Linked DNA regions of Homo sapiens: region 1 is linked to region 2. The links come from fine-mapping of genetic effects on gene expression. A gene starts in region 2. The other region holds a variant in brackets. All regions are shown on one strand. Distances are from middle to middle. Region 1 holds the start of BAG3 (BAG cochaperone 3). Region 2 holds the start of GRK5-IT1 (GRK5 intronic transcript 1).

Evidence for each region.
Region 1: its variant is fine-mapped to the expression of GRK5-IT1 in tibial artery (GTEx, PIP 0.93).

What each region holds. Positions count from the first base shown.
Region 1 is chr10:119,649,898-119,659,608 of GRCh38, reverse strand. BAG3 (BAG cochaperone 3) reads right to left here and starts at 8,229. Exons shown (of 4, transcript NM_004281.4): 1 at 7,754-8,229. The coding sequence starts at 7,933. RefSeq lists a silencer at 8,177-8,476 and enhancers at 8,677-8,756, 8,137-9,091. The variant T/C (reference allele first, on the strand shown) is at 5,317.
Region 2 is chr10:119,203,081-119,212,791 of GRCh38, reverse strand. It overlaps GRK5-IT1 (GRK5 intronic transcript 1), which reads right to left and starts at 4,371. Exons shown (of 2, transcript NR_186528.1): 1 at 4,142-4,371; 2 at 88-1,311. GRK5 (G protein-coupled receptor kinase 5) reads right to left here and starts at 5,221. Exons shown (of 16, transcript NM_005308.3): 1 at 4,823-5,221. The coding sequence starts at 4,874. RefSeq lists silencers at 4,795-4,844, 4,895-4,964, 5,175-6,004 and enhancers at 6,345-6,454, 6,475-6,524, 6,635-6,714.

The DNA of each region.
Region 1 (9,711 bases), 450 kb before region 2:
TCTGATGGACGGTGAGACCCCTGAGTCCCGGGGGGGCTCTGCTCCCACCTGCAGTGGCTTCTCAAGCATTCGGTCCACAGCAGCCACACCCCCCAGAAGAGGGTGGTGGCACTTGGAAAACCCCTCCTTCCTTCCATCTGCGGTGACATTTACACCCCTGAGAGCTGGGTCCAGAAGAGCTGTGCAGGTAATCGGCCCCTCAGTAAGGTGGGCTGATGTCCCCCCTCACAGGCAGCGCTCCTAGCTCCTGCCTGGTACTTTGCGGCTGCACAGACACAGCTGAGGGAGACCCTCCCCTTGAGGAGCTGAGGCTGAGTAAAGCCAGCGCTCTACACAGCACAGTGGAGGACACAAGGACCCAGCCTATCTTGGGCAGAGGATGGGGAGATGCATCTATGGACGCATGGCGCAGGGTCTGGCAGCTGGGTCAAGGCTCCCGAAGGCCCCGCAGCTTCATCTGTTACTGTTCCTTTACATCCTCCACTCACAAGGGGCACGGGAAGCCCCAGGGAGGGCTCCAAGGGCCACCTGGACACTGGTCGGGGGAGTCAGCTACACTCCATACAAGGGGGATAAGAGGAGGCCTTGCTTCTAAGAAACAAGACCCCAGGCCTCTCTGAGAGCTGAAAGGCCCACGGACAGCCAGGACAGTCTGCTGTGTGGAGAGGCCACACACCTATCCACAAACACACTTCTACTCCACAGAGCAGGCTGCATATGTTTCCGGGAGTTCCACGCATGCATCAGTTCAGGCTTTGGGACGTTCGCCTCCCACACACCATCTTCCTTGATTCTCCCAACCCTGCTAACAGAAGTGTTGCTATGCCCACTTCACACAACGGGAGACTGAGGCTCAAGAAGGGTAAGTGCTTTGCCTAAGATCTCTAGAACCCAGGTTTGTCTGATGGTAAGGCCAGGTAGATGCTAACCTTTCTGCTACTCCTGTCACAGCTGTACACTGTGATAACATCCATGTGTCACTAACGTCTCCAAAACCTTCATCTCCCGGGGTAAAATGCAGCAGGAGAGGCAGCAGGAGAGAAAGGCTTCCATTTCGCCCAGCCACGCTCGGCTGAGGCTCAGACCTGGAACATTCAGTTCAAGTGTGCTCTGGGTCAGGGAGCCAGCGCTCCATGCTGAGTCATCAGGCCAGCCAGGCAGGGTACACGAGAGTGAGAGCACTCAGCTTAATTCTGAGTCACCACAGCCCCAAGACTGCAGGGACGCCCGGCATGGAGCGCTGTCAGAACCGGGGAAGACACCGTCCAACCCAGGAAGGAGTGCTAACCCCGCTGGGATGCTGGGGGTCTGAACTGACCCTGAAAGGGTGGGCCAGCGAAGGGGCTGGCTTTTCTTCTGCACATGAAGGGGCCTTCCCATCCTCCCACTGTATGAATTTTTAAACCATCCATTCATTTATTCATTCATTCAATGTCAAGGAAGAATTTTTTAAATAACTGAAAAAAATATATAATTCTACTTTAATAAACACTGAGGAAGATACTTTAAAACAGCAAACGTTTGTTCTCCAATTGAATGCTAAGGAATTTTCCGTAAAAAGTCTCCCCAGTTCACTGGGGCACAGCTCTGTGCTGGGAGCTCTTGGACAGCTGAGCTGTTTACAGGCTCCTGACGCACAGAGCTGGCACTCTGCGATTCTAGGCTTTTCTGAATTGACAGTGAATAAGAACCTTCACGTATACGGTGTCTGATCTTGCTGCCAGCCACACGAAAAAAAATTTTTAAGAGACTCTTTTCACAGTGCCAGGGGCTGCTCTCTGCACAGCTATGGAAGTAGGGTCTGGCTGCTGCCAGCTCCCAGCCTCTCCAGCCCTGCTGTAAGATGCTGTGTCATTGGGAGAAACAAAAAAGAGCTTCTCCAGACCTGTAAGGATGAACTTAGGGAATCAATACTGAAGTCCTTTGTGCAGAGAAGGCCATTCACAAAGTGACAAAAAGGAGCAGGCCTCTGGGGACCTTTAGGAGCCCAGGACAACTCTGCAGTTCTTAGGAACCAATGGAAGGCTTCCCGGGACACACCTGCATCCTTCACGGGCAGCTCTTCTGTATCTGCCTTCGCGCTCTGGGCAGGCCCATGTTCTACCCTTCTCCACAGTCACTCGTTCCATCTTTTCTGAGCCTGTGGACCCTGCCAGGCATCAAGAGGCAGCGATGAAGCACACAGACTCTGCCCCAGAACTCCTAACAGGGGTGTGACCCCAAGACAAAGCAGAAAAGTGCAGAGCTTAAGCAAAAAGATTCAAATTAAAATAATATGGGTTCCAGAAGAGAGACAGCCTGCTTCGGACCAGGGAGAGGCAGGACATGCTTTGTGGAGAACAGTCTCAAAGTGGGCAGACTTGTCCTCTATATGGCATTTAACACTGTGACTCGCACACTGTGGGCACTCAGTGAATTTCAGATGGGGTAAAGGAGTGAGTAAAGAGTCGGGCCCATCTCCTAAATCCAGACCCAGGTTCAAGAAACAGGCCAACATTTCTGATTAACTATACAAAGATGGACTCAGGGCTGTTTATCACCTCAAGCTGTGCCTGGGGAGTATAAAGCAGCCGTGCCTGGGGAGTATAAAGCAGCCAGGCCCGCTAAAGGCAAGTCTGTCTGTCACCCCTTCAGGAACTCAGATGGGGGTAAAGCCACAGAAGTCTTTCTGTTTATCACAGGCCAGGCACACTGCCTCTCCAAATCTGCTGTCCCATGTGTAAGACACTTCATAGTTTCTAGTTCAAAGAGCTGGTGAGGATTTAGAGATAAGGTTACCAAAAGCACCCACTCATATCTGGCACATATATATATATATGTGTGTGTGTTGACAGACAGAAAAATACTACATTCATTCCTCTCCCCCCAAATTCTTCCTAAGCTTTTGCAAGCTGCCTGGCTTCCTAAAAGGCTGCCAAGGTCCCAAAGATACCTTCATCGAAATACGTGACGACTTAGTAACACCAGATACCTCACATGGTATCACATGTGCCACATGATGCATACAGATGAATCCTGCACCTGCAAAACAAGGGGCTCTGGAGCCTGCCTCAGACGGCCGGCTGATGGGCATGGTGGCGCTCACCTATAATCCTAGCTACTTGGGAGGCTGAGGCAGGAGAATCGCTTGAACCCAGGAGACGGAGGTTGCAGTGAGCCAAGATCGCACTACGGCACCCCAGCCTGGGAGACAAAGTGCGACTCCGTCTCAAAAAAAAAAAAAAAAAAAAGAAGGCCAGCTGAGTCTATGCTCTGAGGCAGAAGCAGATCAGAGGTGTCTACTTGACTCACAACAAAAGGGAACCCAGGAGGGGCTGGAGAATAACACGGTCAAGTGTGACACAGGGTTCACTCGTGTTCGCCAGTGCCAGAGGGTCTCAAAGATCCTAATAAGCAAGGCCTTTGTCTTCAGTTTCTTCTGTAAGCTCTCTTAAACATTTAAGAGCAATATTAAAACAGCAAAACTTAAAGGAGAAAGAGTAGGTCTGGATGATGAATGGTTTTCTACTTTGGATGATAAACATCAGAACATCATTTTTAAATGTCAATAGAAAGTAATAAACATGTAGAGTGGTTTATATAAGGTGACTGTGTGTCATTCCAGAAACGAGGACAGCACTAAGCAAGCCTCATGGGTGGTATGAAGCTTTCTGACTCACAAGCAGCCCTGATAGCATCCAACAGTTAAGCCTTCCCAGCCCTGGCCAACGTCAAACGCTGCCGCAGGTCCTGTGTACAGGCTCCACCCTCATAAAGGGCAAATCTACCCTACAAAACGGGACAAATGATGTTCTCGGAGGTGCAGTCGGTTCTCATGTGAACAACACAGGCTGTTCTTCAGAGGGGAAAATGAAAGTCCTGGATGAGCTGGGCTCCAAGGCATCTGGCCATGCTGTTCATCTGCCCCCCAACAAATCACTTTCATGCAGTCGCACAGGAACTTGCTCAGCCACAACTGCAACTTGCTGGAAATACGAAGGAGAGAACGGCCACTCATTTCCTGATTGTGCTCCGCCTCTGCTAAGAGGCATAACAGCTTGCAATAGATCTGGAAAGAGCAAAACGATCTCATCTTTAAGAAAATTCAGGAGGCTCTGCTGAACCTTAAGCAAAATAAATGGGTCTCTCTACTTCAATCATAACTCGAAACATTTCCAGTGTTATCTGAAAGGATGTTTCTATCTCCCTGTCACAGTGCCTGAGTATAATCTGTTAAATGATTATGGTGAGATTCTGCCAGATGGGCAAGACAAAAAGAAAAGGCTCTGGCTTGCTTCTTCCTGGGGTCCAGGAAGATCTCTGGACCACCTCCCCACTCTCGCACTGCCAGCCACCCTGCCAGACTTTGCAAGGTGCTGTCTCGGCTCGCTTCCCATGTCATCCCCATATTCACACCTCCAGAAGCCCGCGTACCTGGGGAGTTTCCCCAAGAAGGAAAATGGAGGCTTGGGAAAATGCTCTGCAGGATAGATGTTCAGGAGGCACTAAGCCGCAGCTCCTCCTCCCCAAAATGGGATCACTGGCCATCCGTGGCTCCCACTGCCAGTGCAGCAGAATCAGAACCACCAAAAAAGCTTTCTGGACTTAATAGTTTTCTGGGCCCTACACTGAGCAATTCAGATTTGAACATGGGGTTGGGGCAGGGAGGCGATGAGACACAGCCACAATCTGTGTTCTTAACAGGACTCCCTGGAGAGTGCCAGACTGGTAACCCCCAAGATCCATGGAGCTAGAGCGGCCCTGCTCCATGAGGGAGGAAGGTCTCCCTCTCATCCCAAGGAGGCCTGGCGGGAACAGCACTCCAGAACATCCGGCCTCTGTTTATTCAGGGAGGAGCCTGGAGGAGTGGCTGCACCAGCACTGAATGCCATCCTCTGCCAGGAAAGGGCCTGGACTGGTATGAACTTGCCAAATTAGTGGGAAGCCCAAGTGTGCAGAAAATCAAAATCCAGGAAGACTGCAGGTGGGGAGGCCCAGCTGCTTAGAATGGGGCTGGATGAAGCCCAGCATCTTTGCCGGGAGCCGTCCTGCTTCAGCAATGACAGAAGATACTTGCTTTCGCTCTGCCCCTCTGTGAAAACAGGGAGTTGTCCTAACTACTTCAGGAGAAGGCGGAAGATCAACTGCAAGACGGCAGTAGAAGACGAAATAAAATACAAAGGTCTAGTCTTTTCTTTCCATTTTCTTACTAACGTGATTAAATTTTAAACATCCTGAAGCTGAGTCCTCCCCCAAAAGAGAGGTCGTCTCTTGAGCTCCTCATGCTCAATGAACAGCTTTTTACTGATTGACAGCATTTCCTCTTGAAGATGATGA[T/C]GCTCAGACGGGCCTCAGCTCAGCTCCTCCAAAATCGCCCTTTGTTTTCTGCAAGGGCCTTTTTCTCATTATGCATTGAGAAGCCAATTTCAAATACAAAATGATATTCAAGGATTTTCCACTACATTTAGTCTCCAGTAAGGTGTAACTCACACAAGTGCAACCTGATATTGTGTGTGTCAAAGCACAGGATTGAAAGCAATGAAGCACAAACAGCTCATGGGCTGAATGTTAGTTTTCTCCTTAAGTTTTGGTGCCATGCTGACAAGTCTCAAGTCATTCACTTGGTAAAGGGAACTCTTTTCTTGAGTTCATCAGTCCCATCATCAAAATCCAAGCAACCTCAGCACAGAGGTCAGTGACCCAATAACTTGGTGGCCAGGAGGGCACAAAAATAATCAAGTATTCTAGCCTGCATGCCTCAGTTTCCCAAAACACTCACTTCCAACTTCTGAAGAGACACACTGCCTCTTATTAGGACTTTCCTGACACTAGTTCTCTCCCTGTTGTTGGTACTAGCTGGATGACCTTCAAAGTCACACCTGAACTCTCTGGGTTTCAGAAAATAAAGAAGCCTAACATAAGAGATCTTCAAGGACATTTCAACTTTAAAATTTTGACCGTGAAATTTTCAAATAAATCTTCCCAGCATCAGACTTCTGATTTAGTAGTTCTTTGTATTTGCTGACAAGAATAATGGTAACTAAACCTGCTTTTTTTCTTTTAATAAGGTTTATGAAATCACAGCCTAACCCATGCACCAGGTGGGTACAGGAAGATCTCAACTTGCTGGGTAAGTTTCATGCTGAGAACAAAGTGCTGGGAATGTTTATGTTCAAACTTGATCTTCACTCACAACAAAGGCTGCCAACAGATACCACTATCCCTATGTCTACAGGAAGAAGGCTTCAAAATAATAGTTGTAAACCACACTAAAGATCATGTACATCCACGCAGACTCCTAAGAAAGGTGGTTTGAAATGAGTGTCAGTTTCACCCAAAAATGGGTGGAACAGACACACAAAAAGGTATATGTAACTGTGCCCATCCCAGCTAATTACAGCCTCTTGTACTAATTTTCAAGAATAAATATACAACTAATCTCTCGTAAATGTAAACTGCTGCCTGTACACGGTCTCACTGCTGGGCACCGGAGTTTTATCAATATTGTTAAAACAAAAAGTGCATAAAGATGAAGGGAAATAATACAGGTCTTTCTTCTAAAACAATGGGTTACACAGCAGTTTTAATTTGGTGAGTTTTTAAATCTTCAAAATAATTTACCAGCTCTTTGCTGCTTTTATCTTGCCCAGACGGCGTTAACAATTCAGCTTTAAGTATAACATATTTATTTTAAAAACTTTTTATCCTGAAAGCTCAAATTTATAAAAAATTGAAAGAATAGTATAACTAACTCTGATTTTTGAAAATTAACACACTCATTCCAAATTTACATTTTCAAATTTCATGCTCTTGGGGATTAAGAAGTATATATCCTTGCATGTATGTAAATGAGACATACTTCTGCTGTATTCACAAGAGTATCATTAGTCAGTTATTTGTGTACTGGTAACAAATCCTAAGTATTTTAATACCATAACAAGGCAGGAAGCGAATGCCATTATAAATATACACGTATCATTCTCTTTCTCTCCAGTGTGAGGCAATGTGGTAAGGCAATGGCCAACTGTAAGACAGTCTCAGATCTCTAGTCTAGATCTCTAGAAACTGCTGGGGAGAAGCACACCCTGTTTTTTATTTTACAAATCATACTAGGATACGTTCATATTGAAAGCACTTTCAAACAATAATACAATTTTAATTTAAAATACACACACACACATATATATATGAATGTTTTGACACCAGCCTCCAGAGTCATTGGGTGCCTAACATGGGACAGTAGCCAAGATACCCCTCAACCAAGTTGGAGAACTTGAGCGGTAAAATTCCCCCCAAAACCACCATCCAAGCTTGCGAGTGTCCCCCTCGAGTCCGCGGTCAGCAGGGTGCGCCGCGGGTCCCGGGCCCGGAGGCCGAGCGGGCAGCAGGGGCCACGGTGGGCCGGGGCCTCCGGAGCTGACCAGGCCGGCCGCCCCTCTCCCAGCCCTAGAGCGCGAGGCCAGCGCTGGACACCCGGCCTTCCGCCCTGGAGTCGAGCCGTGGACGGCACCGGAGCCACTGCGGGGTCGCTTCCCGGGCCACCGAATCCCGGGGCCTCCTTTCGCCCCGACGCCTGTCAAGGGCGGGTCCGGAGCGGGGACTCGTCCGGGCGCAGCGGGAGTGTGTGGCGGGGCGCGGAGCCGGTGTCCGCCCGCGAGGGGCCTTCGCCGACCCCCGGGCCCCGCCGCCTCGCGTCCCCCCGGCCCAGCCCACTCCCCGCCGCCTGCCGTCGAGGTGGCGCCACCGACCAGGGCGGGCCGCGGGCCCGGCTCACCTTGGGGCCCTCAGAGGGCACGCGCGGGTCGTTCCACGTAGTGGTGCGGCTGTTGTGGTCCACGAAGAAGGGCCAGCCGGTCTGCGGGTCGATCTTGATCTCCCATCCGGGGGGCAAAGGGTCGCGGTCACCGTTGCCGGACGCCACCTGCATCATGGGCGAGTGGGTGGCGGCGCTCATGCTGGGTTGGGGTCTGCCCGCTGGGGCGCGGGTGCGGGGCGCTGGCTCCGGGCGCCGAGTCTCTGGCCGGGCCGCCGCCGTGGGCCCCTCTCCGCCGCCGACGTGTCCGGGAAGCCGGCGCCGGGCACCTTTATGAATTAAAGGCGGGGGTGACGTGGCCAGAGAGGGGTGGAAGTGTCTGGAAATAGCCTCCTCGCTGCCAGAGGGGAAGGAGGAGATAAAGGGAGGTAGCAACTGGCCGGCTAGAAACTTCTGGTCCAGTCCAGAGAAGTTGGCCGCGGCCCGGGGTTGGATGCGGAGCTCCGCCCTGAGTCATCGGCTATAATCGCGGCGGGCGGGGCAGAGGAGCGGGGGCGGGGCCTCGGCCCGCTCGCCCCTCCCCCACCTCCTCCCGCCCCTCCCCCTTCCGACTCGTGCGCGTGCCCGGGCCGGAGTCGCCGCGGGCGGGCGCGGGCGCGGCTTCGGGGTCCGCCTGCGGGTGGGAAGCCGGACGAGCTGGACTGGGGCCGTCCTCCGTGCGCCCCGGGCGGGTTTCGGCTTTCATAGTCGCTCTCTCCCTCTCCTTTGCGCCGAGTGAGTGTTCCCGGGGCCGGAGCCCGTGCTCCCCGTGCCTGCCGCCCGTCCTTCCTGTACAAACAAAACCATCTCGCCCACCTCCACCCCCTCCCCCATATATGATAGCCGAGGACCCTGAGGGCTGTCCGGGAGGAGCGCGGGGACTCTCATCTGACACCGGAAGGAAGCCAGGGAGAAAATGGAAGTCAGTGCAAACTCACCTGCCTTCCTTTGGAAACTTCAAGAAAAAAAGAGATTGTATCAACTGATGGCTTTTAGTCTCCTAGACTAAAAAGAAAGTTTCGTTGCAGCTTTAAAGATAAATCACATTTTCTTGGGTCTGGATCTTTTTTATGGTAGAGATTGGTTCTTGCTATCTTATATCTTGACCCTGATTTGGGAAGTAAAGACCGAATAACCATGACATTTTTTGTTTGGTTTATTCAATTGCACTTGTAACCTGTCAAAGGAGAAAATTACAACACATTTAAAGATCTTTTTTGTTGTTGTTGTTGTTGATTTTCATTTTTTAACTTTTATTGTTAAAGATCTTATTTGTGATTCTAGAAATTGGGCAACATCTCCATTAAATTAGAATAAGTGCTCCCATGAGCTGAGCAGAAGAGGTTGGTTTTATAGACAGAGAAGGGCTGAAGAAAGCAGAAACAAAGAACCAAGACTGGATTGGTTGTTTCAAAATTACTTTCCTTGTAAGGAGGGGACAGAGAGACAGAATCATAGAAAAATAACTGATGAGGGCTTGCCACCATGGCTCATGCCTATAATGCCAGCACTTTGGAAAGTCAAGACTGGAGGACCTCTTGAGTCCAGGAGTTTGAGACCAGCCTGGACAACACAGTAAGACCCCCATCTCTGCATAAACAAAAAATAAGCCAGGTGCAGTGGCTTATGCCTGTAGTCCCAGCTACTCAGGAGGCTGAGGTGGGAGGCTCATTTGAGCCCAGGAGTTTGAAGCTGCCATGAGCTATGATTTTGCTCTTCATGCCAACCTAAGCGACAGAGCAAGACCCTATCTCTTTAAAAGAAAGAGAGAGAAAGAAAGAGAGAAATGATTGAGAGAAATGTAACATCAGGTTACATACTTCAGATTACTGTACAGTTGACCCTTAACATGGGTTTGAATTGAGCAGGTCCACTTGTACATGGATTTTTTTTCAATAAAAGTTACACCGATGTGCTTGCCTCTCCAGTCTCCCCTTCCA
Region 2 (9,711 bases):
TATCTTCTCAATGTGTCACCTGTTGGTAGTCACTTTCTGTTTTCTCAAGTTTCACCTCTGAGTTGCATGACCTATGACAATAATGCCTTTTGGTAACCAGAAGACTTTTTTATTTCAAAAATGTCTAGACATTATAATGCTTTATCTTGCACTCCAAACATATTGGCAACAAATATTAACTTTGAATATTGCCCACAGTCCTGGATAGTTTTATTTAAAACATCCCAGATATGGATTGAATAGCCCTTGGTAAAGGTGAATTTGGTTAAACATTGAGCCCGCTCCTGAAATTCACTTGGGCATTCTGGAAGTCTTCAGCCCAGATCCAAAGGGTATCATTTAGCAAGCCACTATAAGAGTTATAGCTTCTGAAGACATAATTTAAACAAGGATTAGTTTGGGCACTGGAAGAGTCAAGCACTTTGGAGTTTAGAATCTGACAAGCAGCAGCTAAGCTACTGAAAGATGAGAGCCTTGTGGGCATTTATCTGATGGTTTTTCAAACAGGCAGCCAGATTAACTACAATCATCGTTTGAAATCTTTAAGAAAGCAAAAGGCCTTCTGAAAACATTGCTTTTGGTTTCTCTACCTCCAAGTTGTCAGTACTGAAAAGGAAACTTTAAAAAAAAAAAAAGAAAGGCAGTTTGATTTAACGGCATTGTGTTTAACAGGCCAGGCTGCTTTTACACACACCGAGCTGCCTTAACCAGGATGAAAGCTGTCGCTTGGTAAGATTAACATTAAAATTGAAGGAGAAGCTTCAGGGTGGAGTACGTATGCCTCCACGTATGCCTTCACATAGCCATAAGAGGGCTTTGAGCTTCAGAGATGTTCCAACGTTCTAATAACCTAATTCACCATGTTTTGGTTTTATCACCATGAATTAGGGGTGCAAGGGAAAGAGGTCCAGGGCTTTCAGCCGTGCTGTGGAATGTTAAGTCTGTCCACGCCATAGCCTGCCCCACGCAGAGCTGGATGCTGGCTCACTCCTTCTTCCTGCCCTCCCTAACCTCTTCCAGGCCCCGAGGTGCTAATCTTGATGATCAGGAAGATCCAGCCAAGTCACAGAGTTACCTGAAAAAACGGTTCCTGTGTATTCTAATGTTTGGCAATTGTGACAAATGACAAAGTTGTTCCAGTCCTAACTTCTCAATTCCTGTGCTTGCTAGGGCCTCAGGAAAATGTGATCAATATTCCTTCAGGTATCTTTTTTGATCAGATATGGCTACTGCTGGCCTGTGAAGAAAGGAAAAGCGGGGCCTTGCAAAATTTTTTCTCACCACTGTTCACTCAGAAGAAAGGCAACAGATCTAGAAGATGAGAAAAACACAAAAACCTTTACTGCAACAATAAAACCAAAAAGAAACACACAAAAGGCACTCAGCAAACTCTCCTTCTCATTATTATTTCAACATTAGGTCGCCTGCCAATTTTCTGAGATTCTGAAATGTAAATAAATAGATAGAGTTAGTCTGGGCCTCTTTTTCATGAAATGCTTAATCACTTAGCTCATTCCCATAAATTGCCATGAATTCAGTCTCAACTTCTTTCTTTTTTTCCTTAAGCACTTTTTAGGAGAGCAATCTAAAGTTCCTAAGAGTGATCGAGTTGATGTTTTCTCATGAGACCCAGGACAAATAAACAGGCCCCAAAATACATTTCCGTGGTTCAAAATCTTGAACCCATACCTCTACCTTTTCTTATTTTAAAATAATTATCACAAGTGTTCATGAAGCTTGCTTGCTATATTTTCTAATTACTAACAATCCATCATTTTACTCTAATCCACTTACAGGCTTTCTATTTTATTGCTACATTAATGCTTTCCACTTTATATTATGTCTTATTACGGTAAGACTTTGAAGATACAGTGAATTTAGGAGCCATCTGTCTTTAATGCAAAACAAAAAGAAAAGATAGGTCCCAGTGTTACCCACCAACATGGACAACTACAAATTATTTTACAGCATTTTCAAAGTGTGCCTGTCTTTCTTCAAGGTCTGTTTCTCTATTGTTTGGGACAAATGTGACTTTTACTTGAAAGCCAAATTTTAAATTGCTTACGGTGTATTTTGTTAAGTGAACTAAATTAAATTTCACATTTGCCAATTATATTTCTCATCTGTAACCACTGACAAGAATCTTTAAGAAGTGTTTTTAAACCTTTTAAACAACTCAGATTTTTTTAATATACTGTTTTATATTAGATATTTCACTAAACTGACTGAAGATTTCATTTCTGAATATTTAGATAATATGGTTATTTGGAGAACTACTAAGTTTAGTAAAATAAATTCAAATATATGAGAACTGAGAAGAGAAACATAAATTGCTTTAATTTCTAAAAGTGTCCACACTAATTAGGATATATGGGCTCAAGTCTCTAATAAAGGCCCAGCCAAAAGAAACTGGAAGCACTTAAAATCATGGCTTTCCTCTAGGCATAAGAGAGAAAGAAGGGGAGAGATGCAAATTGTAAATGAGGTTTCCATTAAATGATTAATTTTTCTTGTTCACGTGTCAGTCTCTCCCTGCTTCCGCAGGCCCTCTCCATTTCCAAGGCATCATCAAGAGCTATTTTCTCACCATGAGATGACGACCAAACTCTCACAGCAAAATTGAAAAAGCCTTTAAAAGGAAAAAAAAAAGTGAAAGGCACATTCTTGAGCACTTTCAATCACTGTAATTCTGCCCCAATGGGAGTCGGTCACTCCACACAAGCTTCCAGCCTGCAGCTCTCTTCTCCAAGGCTCTGGGAAAAAAACCCAATTTGTTGGCCTAACGAACAACAATATCAGACAGTAAATTCACGTTGGTGAAAAAATACTGGGGAGAACAATTTGGAGGGGGCGGGTGGAATTGATATCACTTTGCCCACTCTAAGCAAAGCATTATAAAAGAAGCAACCAAATGCTCAGGGAAGAAAAAAAGCATCTATCAGGCAAACAAATATCTACAGCAGCAAATGTCGGGGGCAGATTCCCTGGGCAACAGGAGGAACCAGCGAAACTTGCAAGGCTCCAGTACCATCAGACCCAGTGATTTCCCAAGAAATAATTTCAGAATGGAGCGAGAGTGAAAACTTTCCCAGCCCCCGAATCCTGAGATACACAACCGTGTCCCACCACTAGGTGGCCAGCTGCAAAGGCTGAAAGAGGGGCGGGGGAGGTGGAGGGCTGTTTTCTCTGCTTCCTCCCTTTCAGGACCATTCCCCAACCCAGAGGAGAGCCTACCAGCACCCACCTAGATCCTGTCCACTAAAAATGTCAGGTTAGGAAAAAAAAAAAAAAAAAAAAAAAAAAACCACACACACACACACAGCTCAGGCCTTAGAACCTGAAGTCACCAAGTAACAAGCCTCTCCTAAAAATTTATTCCCACCAAAGCTAAGCAATGGGAGGGAGACTAACCTGAATATTTTAAACTCTGCTGGGGTTTTCAAAGCACTGCCTCCCTTCGGGGCTTCTGAAATAAACCTTCTTGCCCACTGGCTGCTTTAGAGTGACAAGTGACGACGAAAGTAAGACACGAATGCCGGGTTGAGTTGCTGAAACGCTGCCCACGGAAGGCTATGCATCACCTACCCCCACAGTGTGTAGGGAGCCACAAGGTGATGGAACGGGCTGAATAAACACGAATCGTTTTATTGCTGGCCAGAAATTCTTCCCTTCATTCATCAAAGTAGGTGAATGAAAATATTAAGCAGGTAAGACATTTTCATGGGCTGCTCACCGAGTATCCTTCTAAACTCAAGCCCTTACTCAGTCTGCCTTCTACCTTGTATCAAATAAAGCGTTCTCCCGTGAAAGGGAAAAACCTCTTCCCCTTTTATGAAAAAGGTCGCACACTAGAGCTCAAATCTTGACCAGAAAAAAAAAAGGAAAATATGCGACATAAATTCCAGGTATTCCTAAATACATATGTTTACATGGACACAACACAATCATTTCAGGAAGCACCCAAGTTTCTGCCTCCCCCCCCTTTTTTCTGTTTTTCATCAAAAGGAAGAGTCAAAATATGCGTTCTTAGGGTTTGACTCAGGATCTTACACACTCCATTTAGACAATATTTCCTGCCAGCTAAATGCAGGAAATCTAATGATTTGCATAGAAAACGTATCTAAAGCACCAGCACACTTACCTTTCTTTTCTTAACTGAGCCAAAATCTAACAATTTCAGTTATCACACTCCCAGAAAAGAAAAACCTGAAATACTGAATTATTTTCTAGGTGGTCTGTACAGCCATCCTTTGATAATTCTATGAAAAGGCTAATTCCTCAACATCTGACTTTGCCTTTAAAAGGCTTCCTTCCACACGACGGGATTTCCCTAAGAAACATCCCAGCGGATGGTTTCCAGCAATAGTCTATATCAACTCAGCCTGCGCAGGCAAAGACTTGGCTTCTGCTCATTCCACCCCCGCCCCTCGAACACACACACCAGTTCACACAGAACCATCCCGGGCCGACTTGAAACGCTATTTTATGTGCATGTTTGCTCGTCGCTCCCCGAATGAATGCTTTTCCAACTGACCTTTCAACAGCTGCCGAGATGGCACGCTCTGCAGGGCGAGCGCTGGAAACTAGGAGATATGTTAGCATCCAAATCCCTGCAACCTTCTCAGCCCAAGTCCAGATTCTCTGAGCCCCAAGGCAGGAACCCTGAAGGGTCTGCAGAGCCGCTCTCCGAAGTGTCCTGCTCGCGACCCACTCGCCGGCAGCGGGCATCCTGCACGGGCGCAGCCCCAGCCCGCACGCCACCCGACACCCGCACCCTGGCCCGCGGCGGACGCGCCGGGCACGTACCGGCCCTGCCTCTTACCTTCCCTGGCTTTCAGCAAGACCGTGTTGGCCACGATGTTTTCCAGCTCCATTGACAGTCGGCGGTCAGCAACGGAGCCGGCCGGCGGGGCTGTCAGCGCCTGGGGTGCTGCCGCTGCTGCTGCCGCTGCTCGGGCTGCCGCCGCTGCTGCCGGAGCCGGGGGAGCCAGCAGCCCGCCTTGCCTACCGCATTATTCCTGCTCTCAGCCCAAGAGTTTCCCCCTCTGCAAAGAGGAGCCGCCGCCGCCGCCGCCGCCGCCGCCGCTTCTTCCTCCCTCTGTGTCCCCCCTCCCCCCTCCCTCAACACGCTCCCCCCCACCCCCCACCCTCCGCGTGTCTCTGTCACTCCATTCTCCTCCCCTCCGGCTCCCTCGGATGCTTTAATGCCTCGGATGCTTCTGCCTCCCCTCAGTCCCTCCCGGGGGTGTGGTACTAGCAGGCTCGGGCGGCCGCACTGCGCAAGCGCCGGCCCAGGCGCGCCTCCTGCCTCGGTGCTCGCGGCGCGGGGCCTGCTGGGAGCTGGAGTCCTCCCGGCCGCGCGGCGCCGGGGCTGAGCTGGGCTGGCGCGCGGCTGTCGGAGCGAGGACCCGCCCCGGGACGGCACCGAAAGCGAAGGCGGGCACCGCCCGGCCGACAGGCGACTCAAAGGCGGCCCAGCCAAGCCGAAGTCCCCAGCACCCCCCCGCAGGCTCCCGCTTGCCCCCTTCCCGCCCCGTCGCCAGCCCGGAAAGCGGAGTGCACGGGCCCCGGTGACGGCGCGTGAAGCGCCGCGGCCCGGCAGGAGCCAGTGCGGGTCCCGAGCCGTGCTCGGAGTGGGAGGGCTGCCAGCTCGGCCGCGCGCCACAGCCCGCTTCCTCCGGTCCGCGCCAGGCCCGCGAGGGTCTGAGTCCCGGGTCAGTGACGCGCGCCCAGGGTCCCCGCACGCGGCGGCGGCCGGCCCGGCCTGGCCCCTGCCCAGCGTCTCCCACGCGGCGCCTCGGGCCGCGGACAAAGATGCACTTTGTTTCCTCGGAGGGCGCGAAGGGCTCTGCGGGTCGGCTGCGACCCGGCGCTGGCTGCCCGCGCTGCTCTCGGTGCGACCCGAGCGCCCCCCGCCGGCCGCGGTGCGCGGCGCGGGGTCTACGCGGACGGCGCCTGGGGCTCAGGGTCCAGCGTGGGAAGCTGCTTATTCTGTGAATAAACTGCCTTCCAGCACACCCGGCCAGCAAATCCACGAGCCTCCCTGCAGCCAAACCCAGCCAGATTAAGTAATAAAAACGCAGACGGAGTCGCCGGAGTCTCCGCCGTGGGGAGCGTTAATGAGTAACAGCCAGGCCAGCGCCAAGCCGGCGTGGGATTAACGTTTTTAAATTCCGGTCTTATTTATTTTGGGGCTCTTAGCTCCTTCCAGTGTTATGCTCAGAACATCAGACTCCAGGTCTGTGCTCAGCCCCGTTTCCTTGCTCCCTCCGCTCCGAAGGCCCCACTCCTGGAAATGGGCTGTCTTCGGTCACCCGGGATCTGCCACGAGTGTCCTACAGCTGGGGGCGGGGCAGGCAGGCCCCAAAGAACAATGAGGCCTTTGCCTCCTCTGCATCCTGCGGGCCGGATATCCGTTCAGAAGCCGACTCTGGGCCTTCTCTGTCCAGAAGGAGGAAACCCTCTGTCCCCAGGGCTGCCAGGAAGTCGCAGGGAGGTGCCGAGAGAAACAGAGAACAGTTATTATGCATTGGAGAATATAAAGAAATCAATAAACCTTCCAGGCCTTGGAAACTGGTCTGGTCACTGATTGTAACAACCCAAGATTACCTGCTTTCCTGGGGGAGTATACCCACCACCACCACTTCCTGGTGTCTAGACTTGGGTCAGTGAGTCTCCCAGGGCCTCATTTATCTTGTCTGCAAAATGGGGGCAACAACAGTTTACCTGTCAGAAGGCGGAGGGCTCAGCGGGTAACTTTTCAGGCACTTACCACTCCAGGAATTACTGTTCTAAGCAATCCAGGCTTGGTCTTTGCTACATATTCACGTGCCTAGAGCCCTAACCTTTAATGAAAGGATCTCTCTCAGACAGCGAGACCCCTAAAGCTGGCAGCTCCTAGAGCCCTCCACCAACCACGCTGGTCACTTGCTGGCAGCATAGGGCCTGATGAAGCCCGAAGTTTGTTTATTCGGCTAACATAAAAAAAAAAAGAAAGAAAATTTTTGAATGCCTTTAGATGGCTTATGCACCTTAACAATTTTCTTGGGCCGGGCGCGGTGGCTTACGCCTGTAATCCCAGCACTTTGGGAGGCCGAGGCGGGAGGATCACGAGGTCAGGAGATCGAGACCATCCTGGCTAACAGTGAAACCCTGTCTCTACTAAAAATACAAAAAAAAAATAGCCGGGCGTGGTGTTGGGCTCCTGTAGTCCCAGCTATTCAGGAGGCTGAGGCAGGAGAATGGCGTGAACCCGGGAGACGGAGGTTGCAATGAGCCGAGATCGCGCCACTGCACTCCAGCCTGGGCGACAGAGCGAGACTCCGAACCAAAAAAAAAAAAAAAAAAAAAAAACAATTTTCTCAAAGGTTGTTTTTGTTTGTTTTTTTGTTTTGTTTTGTTTTGAGACAGTTACTCTGTCACCCAGGCTGGAGTGCAGTGGCCCAATCTCGGCTCACTGCAACCTCGGCCTCCCAGGTTCAAATGATTCTTGTACTTCAGCCTCCCAAGTAGCTGGGATTACAGGTGTGTGCCACCATGACTGGCTAATTTTTGTATTTTGAGTAGAGACGGGGTTTCGCCATAATGGCCAGGCTGGTCTTGAACTCCTGGACTCAAGTGATCCAACCCGCCTCTGCCTCCCAAAGTGCTGGAATTACAGGCATAAGCCACCATGCCTGGCTCAAAGTTTCATGAGCATACAAATCACGGGGGATCTTGTTAAAATGCAGATTGCATTTGGATAGATCTGGGGTGGTTTCTGAGATGTTGCTCTTTCTAACAAACTCCAGGGCTCTGTCGATCCTCGTGGTCAGTAGACCACACTCAGAGTTGAAAAGCTTTCTAGTTTACCGTAACTCCCTATTGTCTTATACCCAGCCCAAGTCACTAGTGATTTTATTTATCTGGCCTGTATAGACATTTAAGTTTTCCATCCTGGGAACCCCTGCCTCTCCCTCTCATTTTACAGATGTGAAACAGACCCAAAGTAAGTGAGTTGGCATGGTCACTCAGCAAGTTAGTGTTAGACTATTTTTTTGTCCACTACAAGCTGTTGCATCCTGCCTACACAAATACATGGTTGTACATCAGGTTTTTGTGCCTCTATGAGGAAATTCAGACACTCCAATGCAAGAATGGAACAATAATGGCTAGCATTTACTCAACACCAACTGTGGGCCAGGCTCTTGTGGTCTTTTAAATGGATTATCTCCTTGAACACAATATCCAGATGAGGTAGGGAACACAGGCCTATTTTATAGATAAAGCACCAGGTTAAGAAAGGTTTTATAGGCCGGGCACGGTGGCTCACGCCTGTAATCCCAACACTTTGGGAGGCCAAGGCAGGCAGATCACCTGAGGTCAGGAGTTCGAGACCAGCCTAACATGGTAAAACCCCGTCTCTACTAAAAATACAAAAATTAGCTGGGTGTAGTGGCAGGTGCCTTGTAATCCCAGCTACTCGGGAGGCTGAGGTAGGAGAATGACTTGAACCCGGGAGCCAGAGGTTGCAGTGAGCCAAGATCATGCCATTGCACTCCAGCCTGGGCAACAGAGTGAGACTTTTTTTTTTTCCTCAAAAAAAAAGAAAGGTTTTATAATTTGTCCAGGGTCACATAAGTAATAAGTAGAAGACCCGGGATTTGAACCTGTCAGCCTGACTCAGAGTTGGTGCACTTAATTTCTGGCTTGCGCAAGCTAGCCAGCACAGCTTGGTAGTAACTGTTCTGTGTGGCTGCCGGGATGAACTTGTATTATAAGAAGGCAAAGCACCCAGTTGACTAAATCATTAAGATTTCAAGGGGTTTTCCATTTTCATCTATAATTCCACCATTATGGCTTTATTCCTTTCAATTAACTGCACTAACAACTCGTGGTCTTCTTGAAAAATGGGTTTGATTCAAGGAAGAGTAGGCTATTAAATATAAATAGCTAAGTAGGGAATCATTGACAGCCAGCTGAGAGCAAGAAGGGAAATCCAAATGGAGGAGTGGGGGTGAGGATGGAGGGATGGGAATATGTCAAAGACAGCCAGCTTCAGACTCCACTCAGGAGCAGCTGAGCCAAAAATGCAAAAGAAGTCAGATGCAGTGGCTCATGCCTACAATCCCAGCACTTTTAGAGGCTAAAGCAAGGGTGCAGGGGATGGGGGGGTGGAGATCGCTTGAGCCCAGGAGTTCGAGACCAACCTAGGCAACATAGCGAGACCCTGTCTCTACGAAATAAACCTAAAAATTAGCCAGGTATGGTGGCACTGAGCTATGATCGCCCCACTGCACTCCAGCTTGGGTAACAGAGTAAGACTGTCTCTAAAAAATAAAAAAGCAAAAGAAACAGGGAACCTTCAAATTCTTCTCTCAGCACCTGTATCTGCCATGAATAAAGCTGCTGGGTCAGAGTTCTTGTAAATAGAAGTCTACTATGCTGGAAAGCCACAAACCTATCGGCCTTCTAAAATATAGATTCCTTTTGCCTGAATAATCAAATTGGCTTTCTGAATAGTCCAGGAACTGGAGTTTCCATTCCTTTCCTTGACTCAAAGCTTTTTAATCCTCAGGAAGCAGCTGCAGATAGAGCTTCCATTCTCTCATTTATCCTCTTCTCCTTCAGAGTTTACCTTTCTGTGTCCAGCCCTGCAGGGAGTTCAAGGCAATTTCCCAGGGAGCTCGCCACTGGGAAGGAAAACACACCGGATGCAAACAACCTCCATAC